Regions from separate parts of the Homo sapiens genome. Here region 1 is linked to region 2. Evidence: fine-mapped expression QTL. A gene starts in region 2. The other region holds a variant in brackets. All regions are shown on one strand. Distances are between the middles of the regions. Region 1 overlaps PPM1H (protein phosphatase, Mg2+/Mn2+ dependent 1H). Region 2 holds the start of LINC01465 (long intergenic non-protein coding RNA 1465).

Region 1 (5,376 bases), 42 kb after region 2:
CTTGGGCTCAAGCAATCCTCCCCGCTTGGCCTCCCAAAGTGCTGGGATTACAGGCATGAGCCACCATGCCTGGTCATTTAAAATATTTTGTTGGTATTTTATAGATTACTTTTAACTTCCTGGATTTTAGAACTAAGCAGAATTAGCATGCTCTGATGCCTTATCCCACCTGTCACAGTAACTTTCCTCTATAAGATGGTACATTTTACTAACCCTTTGTAAGTACATACTTAAAATGCTTAAGCGATGAAGGGAAGTCTGGATTCTTACTGTCTTCAGCAAGATTAGGCTCTAGCCCTCTCACTTAAGAATACCTCTTGGGAGTAATTCTTTTCTCTGAATTATTCATGTGTTTACTAATGGTATCCATGGTAATAATGGTATCCAAAGGCATAGTTGAAATGTATTAGCCTTTACTGTTATTCCTGTGAAGGCTTATAGTGTTGGCATCCATTCCCTCTGGATTTCGAGTCTGTGTTCACAGTTGATAATCTCACATTGAGCCATGATACTCTTTGTATCATTATCATTACCTGATATAAAGAAACCAGACAGACCATTACCTGATACAAAGAAACTTCACAGTGAATTCATAGAAAAGACAGAAAAAAGTTTTGCTGAATATGTCGTATATACATATATATAATATTTTATTTTAAAATGTCATTGAACATATACATTTCTTTAGCTTTTTCCAGGGGACATTGCACCTAAGTTTCAAAACACACAAAATAGATCCCCTTTACTAAACAGTTTTCATTTTGGGGTTACAAAAAAGTCAATGTTTCACAATCACAAAGCATAAAGGTACATGGTTCTGAAACAATTTCCAGGCAGATTTCTCTCATTCACTGTACTAGGGTAGTTTTGGAAACCCAGACCATGATCCATTCCTTACAAATGATCTCCACCATGGGCCTCCCTGGGTCTCCAGAAAAAAAACAAAGAAAACTGGGGGCAAAACAGGAGTAAAATAATAACCTCAGGACTCAGGAAACAAACACAAAATACTTGTGGGAGATCAGAAAAGTAGAGGACACAGGTTCTCCTTCAAGTACATCACAGTAGAAAACTACAGCACATTTACAGCCTTATTTGGTCACTGTCTACCTGGTTGCTACATGAACAAAACTTCACCTAAGACACAGAAGAAAAATTAAAGCTATTTACACAGATAACACTGTGGATTCGAAAGAGCAGTCCTCTGCAGACCGGCACTCCATCTGACAAAAGCCACAGTGCTCACAGAAGAGGCAAGTCAGTCTGCTCGCGTAGCGTCCTTTGAAAAATCCCAGTGTACAAACATGTGCCACGTCACCACACAAAACCAAAGTCTGCTCAGAGAGGTGGGCTATGGTGTGCAGGCTGCAACCTTTCTCTGCAATTGTTAAGTCTTCAAAAATCTGAGTTCCTCACATAAAATTCTGTGCTGTGGCCAGAGCTCGTTTTACCATTTTCTTAGATTGGATCACTTTTAGGATCAGCTTCGTTGTTCTTTGCGTAGACAATGACTCTCACAGCTTTCTCCAAGTGTCCCAGAAGCACTAACTTACTGAAAATAGAATCTCATCAAAGCTTAACATATTCACTCTGAAAACAGCGGAGCTGCTGGGTCGCTTAAGGAAAGCTGAGAACCTCAAACCTGTGGAAGGAAAACCAGTGACCACTTGTGGCCTTATAAAGTTGATTGGCAGGTGAGGAAGGGGATCTCAAGAGGAGAATCCGAATTTCAAAGACATGGGAGATTTGTCCCTAATGTTTTCATACTAGTGCTCTTGTTAAATGGAAAACCCTTCCTGAATGGGGAAGATCTGAGGCTAAATCTGGATCCTGGGACTCTCATTCTTGCCCACCACCATCTCCCTGTGGCTGTCATTCTTCCCTGGAAGTGAATGAATACTGAGAACACAGTAAGAGGAGGGTGGTCACAGCTGACTTCACAAAGCCTCATGGAGGTTAAGTTGTTCAAGAATTTAAAAAGTAAACACCCCAAATCCTCCAAAATGGAATACTGTGGAAAATAACTGAAATTTCCACTGCTTAAGGCTTCATCCTATTAAGACAGCTGAGTACTTGGCCTGGCCCGATTTTCACCTTTCCTTTTACACCTCAAGAACAGCAGATAGGTATGCATAACCACAGCAGAACACACCCTCCACCTCTCTGACTGCTGACACTGGCTACAGGAATAAGGCTTTGGTTATCATCTAGCAAAATGCCACAGAGCATGGACGGACTGAGTTTGTTCTAAGGAAAGGAGTTTCACCAGATAGTCTGAAGAGGCCCAGCCCAGCAAAGAGATTTAGAGCAGGAAAGCCTTTCATTAAAGTAGCCACACACCCCTCGAGACAACCATAAAGACTTGACTAGGAAATCAAAAGGTTTTTATTAAACAAGACTTCCTCTGAGGCTATTCGAGCAAGCAGATTTGGCTATAAGTCAGATACGCAAGATTTCTGAACCATGTATAAATACGTTCTGCAGAATTTCGAAGTGTGCGTCCTTTGACTTTTCCAGGGATGCACCAGGGGCCAACCCGTTATGTAGACACGGTTACTGTTTTAGGACTGGGTGACATGGGGCCTGGGTAAAAAAATAAGGCCAAAACTGAGTAAGCTCAATTTATAGAGCAATATCAGTGCTGGACAGATCTGCCATGCTTCGTTTACATCATGTTTCCTACTTTTGATTTCTTCATCTTATTTATAGTCTTCCTCCCATCCCCTGAACACAAACTTGACTTTATCTTCTAACTAAGATCTTTCCACTCAAGGGGGCGTAGGAAAACAATTCCTGGATGCCTTTCTAACTAAAACCAGCAGGACTAAGTGCTCAAGATTTTATAATATTTCGATTTAGAGGTTTCTAGAGTTATTCCTGAGACGTGCCATAGCAGTAAATGAATTGGTGAATTGAGTAGAAGGTAGTTGTGACATCTACACCCAAATTCTTACTCTGGTGGCTTGAATAAAACTGGAGAAGCTCAAGGTAGGGCCCAGATAGAGGCCCAGGAAAGCAAATAAATGAAAGACGGTGGGGACACAGGAAGGATCCCAAAGACGGCAGCTCAG[G/T]GTCCTCCACGGAAGACTTGCTCAGGTTTCCTACTTACACATGACTCTGAGTGCCAGGGCAGAACAGGGAGTGGACCACACTGCTGTCACATGCCCGAAGGTTTTCCTACAGCATCAGACTCTGCCACGAAGCAAAGCATTTTCCACAAACTTCTCTCCATAGAGATATCTGGGGTAGCTAAGATCTACTGCAGGAGGAAGAAACGTGCTGCAGATGAAGACAACTCCTGACAAGGCCGAAGTCCCATTCTTCCCAGGCCAACACTTGCACAAACACCTGGTGGCGTGAATTCCCACAGTATTTCACCTGCCAGACGGCACTGTCTCCACACCCTGGAATGAGTTCTTTCCTGAGCAGGAGGGGCTCCAGGCCTTTTCGAATACAATACCGACAACTCCAGAAATGCAGGTGATTTACTGCCCTGGAGGAGAGGTTCCTATCCTCTCCTCTGGGAAGAAATTCAAACAAATATGAGAACTGGAATTAGCTCTCTAGCATGCTGGGGGGGTCACGTCAGTGACCTTTTTTCCTTTTTGGGTCAGAAGAGTGTTTTAATTACTCAAAGTTGTCAAAATGGTGGCAATACCTCAGTAGCTCAGCAGGAAGAAGACTAGGTAATTTTGTGGCCGTACAAGTCTGCCTAAGAGACAGAAGTGAGTTTTATAATCTACTTGGCCATTCCTCCCAGCAGAGAAGCAGCAGGTAGATATGGCATGCACTGTGCCTGCTGCTGCTGCTCTTGTGGCGAACACTCAGATGTGGAACCATAGAGGGACCTTGAGGAGCTGGGACATGATTCTTTAGAGAAGAGAAGAGACAGGGAGCACAGCATGAGAATGGCCAGTCAACCCATTTCAAATTCTTTTATTAAAGTGCCCCCCGAGGGGCCTTGCACAAAGATGATGGGGAGAGCAGAACTGCTGCTCCTTGACAGAACTCTGATCCTTACACTTTGTTTGGAGTGGGCTTGGGGACAGTCACAAGCCATGAAACATGAATCCAAAATGGTCCCCAGATGAGCCATGGTGAACCAACAGATGCAAGCAACTTCTTAAACTGCTCTATTAAACACTGCTTTATATGTGTCCCCATGATACAGAAAAGTGGGATGGGGCCAGCCATTCCAGAAATGAAAATCCAGACTCTCACAGAGAACCCTTGAGCCACACAGGAAGACCACTGAAGACAACAGAGGAACTACTGGTCCACAGAAACACTCAGTTTCATGAAAACACACTGATTCGGTTAGAAAATGCAACTTGGGAACAAACATTACACAACAAAGACCCTCTGTCATGCAGGGCACTGGCCCGGATGCTGCCTGGGCTGTGTGGGCTGGAGGAGGTGGGGACAACCCAGCCTGGGTGGGACTTGGACACAGAACTTCCTTAGCAGGGTGTTGGAAAGTCCCAGGCCTGTTCTGTGGAAGGGGAATAAAAAACAGATTCAAGGAATGTCAAAAACACGAAAAAAAAAAAAAAAAATCCCTGCCTCACTCCACCACTGCCATAAAAGAATAGAAACAGAGAAGAAAAAAAGAGAAGGGGGGCGGGGGGCAGACGGCAATCCCTGAAATAAACCTCAGGCTTCCTAGAAGGTGGGCACTTACTTACATTTTGAGGCATGACCCCCTACTTTCCAATGCAGCACTTTTTAACCCGTAGATAAGCTGGCAGCTTGACAGGCTGAAGAGTCCTCTGCCATTTACACCTGAAAATGGCTGCCCCAGCTACTCTAGATAAAATAAATATGACATATATACCCCAAATAGTCAATGGCCACCTCGGAGGCCTATGAAAGGAACTGAAATACAACAACACTTGGTAGCAGCCTTTGTGTTTTGCTCTTGTTGAGTTGACCTGTTACTAAAGAAGAAATGGAAACCAAAGGGTCATCTTGAAGCATAGTCTTTTGGCCATGAACTCCCCGCTTGGGCTGGGAAGAGACTGCATCACTTGGAACTCAGCTGGGGCACTTCCCAGTTCCGTCCTGCCAAGAGGCATCCCAGCTTTCTTCCCCTCTGTCCTCCCAATCCCCTGGGCCATTTTCATGACAGCTTGTTTCCATGTATTAAAGGAATGACATATACAGAAATGTCGTCTCCTGAGCCCAGTCGGTCATTAGATATCCGCCATCCTCTGTCCTTCAGCACACCCCGGGCACGCATCACCAGGTCCTGAGCTGCCAGTGTGTACCTACACAGGAGAACCAGGAACGAGACAGTCAGTAGAGCATCAGACAGAAGCCAGGGTCAAGTGAGGCTGGGAAGGGGGAGGCATCACTACAGTTGTATAAATAAGTTTC
Region 2 (5,376 bases):
ACCAAACAGGTGTTTAGTGGCCATTTAAAAATCTGTGCCATTATGGCAAAGGACATTTGCTTTGGTACAGAATAATCTGATCCACTGCGCAGTCAATGAGCAGTGAGGGTTGATTCCCATGGCAGTCCAATCTTTGCTTATCAAGGAAGGATGGTGTGAAGTTTCTACAGACTTTCTGGTAAGTGATTGATAGATGAGTTTATGGTGTGATTGAGTTTTTGCTTTGAGTTTATGCTTAGTGATTGATAGGTGAGTTTATGCTTTGTCAGGTAAAGCATTTAACTGCAAATGTATTATGTTTACACAAATATTCTTAATTGGAAATAGTTTCTGAATATGCACCTAAAAATGTTCTTATGAAATATGTCAGGCAGGCTGATTTTTAACTTGAAAACTTCTACTTTAAGAAATTGTTTGGGTCCCATCGCCTATACCATGTAGAATAGAAACAAAAAGCCAGTTATTTAATTTTTAATTTGCAATTAAACTCTTGGCCAAGAGGATCTGTTGTCCAAAATTACATCGTGATAGCTTAAGAAAAAAAAAATCTTACTTTGCCAGAAAGGGAATTATACAAGGATATCTTTATGAGTTGCTGCCAAATTTTGTTCTAGACCACGGCCCTCTGGCCTCCATGAAGGATCAAAGTCTGGGCAAAGACAATTCTAAGTTGTAGGTAAACATGCTTTTCATTTCCCTCCATTCCTTACTTTTGTCATAAGCAGTCTGGATTTTCAGGGGTAAAGGCTGATAGGGTTGCCAGATACAGTCATTAAAAATTGAGAATGTGCAGTTAAATTGGAATATCAGATAAACAATTTTAAAAATATATGTAACACACATATGCCAAAACACTGGTTATCTGAAATTCCAATTTAACTGGGCGTCCTGTATTTTATCTGACAAGCCCTAACTACTTCTTTAAAATAATTTGTTAACTTCCTACAAAAAATCTCTAAATGGGAGGAAAAAAAAAATCCCGTAAGTTGTCTGGGCCAAAAGCAGAAGTGGCTCCATGGCAGTCAGCCTTCTCCCTAACTTGGCTTAAAAAGAAAAAGCCAAAACCAGAAGTCCCAAAAGCTTGCGTTTAAAGCGGGCTGTGCCGCAGCTTTCCCGCCTGTTTTCTGCGGAATGTAGCACGGCAGCCACCCCGCGTGGGTGGGGCTCGTATGGTTGTGTCCTTGCTGGTTGGGAAAGGAGGTGCCGGAAACTTCAAACCACGGCCAGGGTACAACGTGTCCGCTTAGGCGGCGATATGCGCCGCCATCTTCTTTGCGGGCAAAGGCCGAAAAAAGTTTGGGACTCCACTCCCCCCCGCTGAGCCGATGGAGGGCATCGCCCGCTGCCTCAGCACTCTGGTGACGTGGAATCGGGGTCCCCTCTTTCAGGGCTGATTTCTGGTAGCACGCTGACGCCTGCCAAGGCAGGGAAAGGGGACGCCGCCTCTGTCCCGGATGTAAGATGGCGGCGCGGGGGGCGGCCTGGCGGGGCGGTCACGTGGTGAGGAGTAGCGCGCGAGCCTCCTTAAGTGATCTCTAAGGTTCGTCCGGACGCACAGGAGCAGCGGAGCGCGAGACGGGTCTTGTGTCCGCACGCGTCGAGTCGTCGCAGTCGCCACCCGGGCCATCGCCGGGCCCGGTTTCACTGTTAAGGGGTTTTCGTTTGTTCCGTTTTCGCCTCCTGTAGAGCTGAACGGGAATTCCCCGAAGGGTGCTGGGGAACGGGTGGCCTGGGGACTTCCCGGCTATGCCTTGGCTGCTGTTTGGCGGAGCCGGCGGCAGCCTCTGCGGGATGCCCGCCGGCGATTATCGGCGCCGAGAGCGGGCCGGCGGCGGGTTCGACAGCGCGGCGCGGGTGGGGGCCCGGGTACCGGACTCGGCCGCAGCCCAGCCCCCACCGGGGACTCGGAGCAGGGAGGGGCGCGAGCGGCGCAGCTCGGGACGTGGCGGCAGCTCCTAGCGGGCGAAGCGCGGGAGCGCTGCTCGCTGCCTCTCGGGGGCAGTCCAGAACCAGTTGGTGTCTGACTGCGCTTTTGCCGCCCATTTCCTGCTTTCGAGCGGCTGAGGCGACGCGCTCCCCTCGGGCAGTGGAGGGAGCGGCTCTCTCCGCAGGACACCGCCGCTTTTCTCTCTTCAGAGCGGTGGCTGACGTACAGAACGCCGGCTGTATCACCCGGGCGCCGGCGCCGCCTCTCATCCCCGTAGCTCTCGGGGCGCGCCGGGAGTAGCCGAGCCGCTGGGTGCTGGGCGGGGTCTCCGGGCGCGGCGCGGGGGGAAGGCAAAGGAAAAGAAGGGGCGGCGGGCCGACGTCGGCGGCGAGGAAGGACGGAGGAGCGCCGGAGCCGCTTTGCTGCCCTCCGCGTGGTCCCGTGCCTCCCCGACACCATGGCCCTGGCTGAGGTAGTAGTTTGTGCTGTTGGTCGGGTTGTGACATTGCCCGCTGTGGAGATAACTGCGCAAGCTACTGCCTTGCTAGTGCTGGTGATGCTCAGCGCCGCGGAGGACAATGGCTGGGAATCCCCTTTGTTTTCCGGGGCGCTGCCTGGGGACAGCCCGCGAAGCCTCGGCGCCCGGCCGGCGCGGCCACCACGGAAACCGTTAGTTTCACATTTTCCTAGAAGGAATTGAGGGGAGTGGGGTGGACCGCGATGCATTTTAAAGGTTGGGAAAGAGCTAAGCCATTGGATTCCTTTTCTTGAAGGAAGGAGTGGAATTGTGTAAGATAATTGATACAGATAACTTTTTCACCCTAAAAAATTCTAACACTTCTTTCAGCAGTTAAATGCCAAATTTAGTGTGTACCTGTTTTACTTCATTCTTTAGCTGTAGGTTGGAGTGGTGTGAGCGATCTGCAGAACTGGCATTAGAGGGGCAGAAGAAGTAGACCTGATAATTAAAGTTTATGCCTTAACATTTTAGATCTGGTTTCTGATATGCTCTCTTAGTAAATCTGAGTGTGTCTTTAAAAACGTAAACCCAAAGCAATTTAAAGTTTCTCTTTAAACTTTGCAACTCGCGAATGAGAAGATTGAAATTATTTGTAGGTAATTGCACTATTCCGATTTTTTAATGTATGAGGCAAACAAATAAATTCTATGTACAGTGTGCTGTGAATGGTTTTGTTTTTTGTTTTTTCTTTTTAGTTTAACCTTGGGGCTCAGATTCTGCTGGTGTGGTGGGTTGGTTTTTTGGTTTTTATGGCCTTTGATTCTAATGTTATGTGGTACTTACATCTTTGAGGTTTTGTATGGGAGAAGAGGACTAGGAATTGAAAGTGGTTTCTAGATTTGAGTTTAAAATCTACTAACACTCATTTTGATTCCTGAGTGGCCACTACTCCTAATAGGAAAATACCTTTGCATAGAGAAAAAAGGTAGTTTGGATAACTAATGAAAATACTCAGTGCTCTAATACCCTGAAGTCTGCGTGGAAAACAAGATACTTGTATTTTTATTTTATTTTCACTGAGGGAAGTAAGTGGTCAGTTTTAGTACTTTTCGTTGAAAACTGATCTGTATTTGTACAGAATAAGTAGTTTTGAATATAATGTAATCGCAGTTTTCTATGGTTTTCTGATGCTCAGTTGAAAAACAAATAAGGCAGTTCTTTAAACCAACCAAACCCTTCAGCAGGAGTTTGATGCTTTTATCATTCAAAAGTGATCTAATATATGTGCCTTGATTGGGTTTGGTTTAGCCTTGAGAATAACCTTACTTAATCTGATCTCATCAGGATGGAGCCGCCTCATTGTGGGAAGGGCGGTGAAGAACCTTATCTTGAATCTTAAGATGCAGAAAATGCTTGAATGTTGGCTCTTGAAGTTTGCTTTTCTTGATAGCAACGCAGAGTAAATTCAGGGCTTTGTTAAGTGCTTGTTTTCTTAAATAATGAAAACCTCTGCGGTGCTGTGTCAAATCTTGGTTTATGGAGAAACTAATCATAACATGCTAATTTCATTATGATTTTATTTTCCAAAACACTTCATTCAACCAACCGAGGTAATCTTCCAACCCACTACACTCTAACATTTTTATGGAGAATCAACGGTTGTTAATCTGCACCCCAAAGTATAACAAATTCTGCTGGTAATTTAAACTTTAAGCGGATAAGCACACCAGAAATGCTCAATGTCCTATACAGATAAACTATTCATACTTTATATCTTGTGTTTTTAAAGTAAATTTTATCCACAACTACATATTGCCCAAATAGTAGTAACATTTTTGAGTTATTGGATGTAAAGGTACTTTGAGAGGTTAACTGTTTCCTAAGTTACAAGAGAAAATACTGCCACCAGCTGACTTGTTTTAATCCCATAGCTATATTTCTGCTCTAATCTCCAGTTTTAAAAATGATCTGCTAATTACATTTCTCTACACACCAACTGAAAATTACCAACTGAACATTTTCCTTGTTGACAGTTTCCCACAAGATGAATTTGATTTATCAAAAATACAGCTTTCTGAACTTAGTATTATTGACATTTACTTGGTGCAGTTAACTTTTTTGTTAAAGGTCTGTTGTCAAGCATTTAAGTAATTTGTAGTTGTAAAAAGCCACTGGTGGAAAGTAATAAGGCAGTATTTTGAGTGCCCTTCTCAATAAGTACATACTAAACCAAAGGAAAGCTGGGTTATGGTAATAACATTTTAATAAATGTCATCCTCAATTGGAAATGGAGACTGTGTTATGGTATATAGGACACACCATATGGAGAAGATTCTTGGAGAACACAGTTTTGCTTCATACTTTAAAATTCCTGATTGCTAATCTTACATAGAAAAGCTTTGTTTACAAGCTATTTTAAAATAACCTTTTGGCAGGTAGGCAAGACTGACTGGCAAGGGTGCACTCAAGACATTGTGTCTTGTGGAGTGGTCCCCAAAGAATTCCTGACAGAGGCACCTGACAGCACAAATTAGCTCTTCAGTGTATAAGCACAAAGCACCAAAAAGGCTGAGATTTCTTCCTAGCTACATGCTCTCTCCCGCTATTGTTTATTACACTCCACCCGCTCCATGGTGAAGCTGACAAAGGAGATACTATTAATTTCCTTTCCCACTGAATAATCCCCTCTGTAATTTCTACAACAAAAGGTAAATAGGACAATCATCTTCGAAAATGAATTAGGCCAGATTGGTAGTACCCAAAAGGAGAATTAATGACCATTGTCATAAACTCTGAAAAGCTGTTGGCGCTACTGATAATCTAGATAATTAAGCAAAAATTTGAAAATTATTTCTAAGATTGTCTAATGAAGTTCACTAAGTGTTTTTGTTAGGTTATCACTATTGGGCACCATGGGGAAAGCAAAATAATTGTATAGCTAGGTCATTGCCCCAAAGGAAAACAGGAAAGATGTCACATGAAGTGTTTA

The links. PIP is the estimated chance that this variant, and not a neighbour inherited with it, causes the effect. A credible set is the group of variants that fine-mapping cannot tell apart.
Region 1: its variant is the best candidate, but not a certain one, in a credible set for the expression of LINC01465 in testis (GTEx, PIP 0.74).

Annotation. Positions count from the first base shown.
Region 1 is chr12:62,643,370-62,648,745 of GRCh38, forward strand. PPM1H (protein phosphatase, Mg2+/Mn2+ dependent 1H) reads right to left here. Exons shown (of 10, transcript NM_020700.2): 10 at 625-5,267. The coding sequence ends at 5,120. Among named protein-coding and RNA genes, the nearest start is that of MIRLET7I, 42 kb to the left of the region's middle. The variant G/T (reference allele first, on the strand shown) is at 3,072.
Region 2 is chr12:62,601,296-62,606,671 of GRCh38, forward strand. It overlaps LINC01465 (long intergenic non-protein coding RNA 1465), which reads right to left and starts at 2,139. Exons shown (of 1, transcript NR_121682.1): 1 at 456-2,139. MIRLET7IHG (MIRLET7I host gene) reads left to right here and starts at 1,448. Exons shown (of 2, transcript NR_186001.1): 1 at 1,448-1,540. MIRLET7I (microRNA let-7i) reads left to right here and starts at 2,391; the gene lies at 2,391-2,474. RefSeq lists enhancers at 742-1,265, 1,266-1,787, 1,302-1,411, 1,492-1,681, 1,788-2,309 and 1 more and silencers at 1,762-2,071, 2,162-2,461.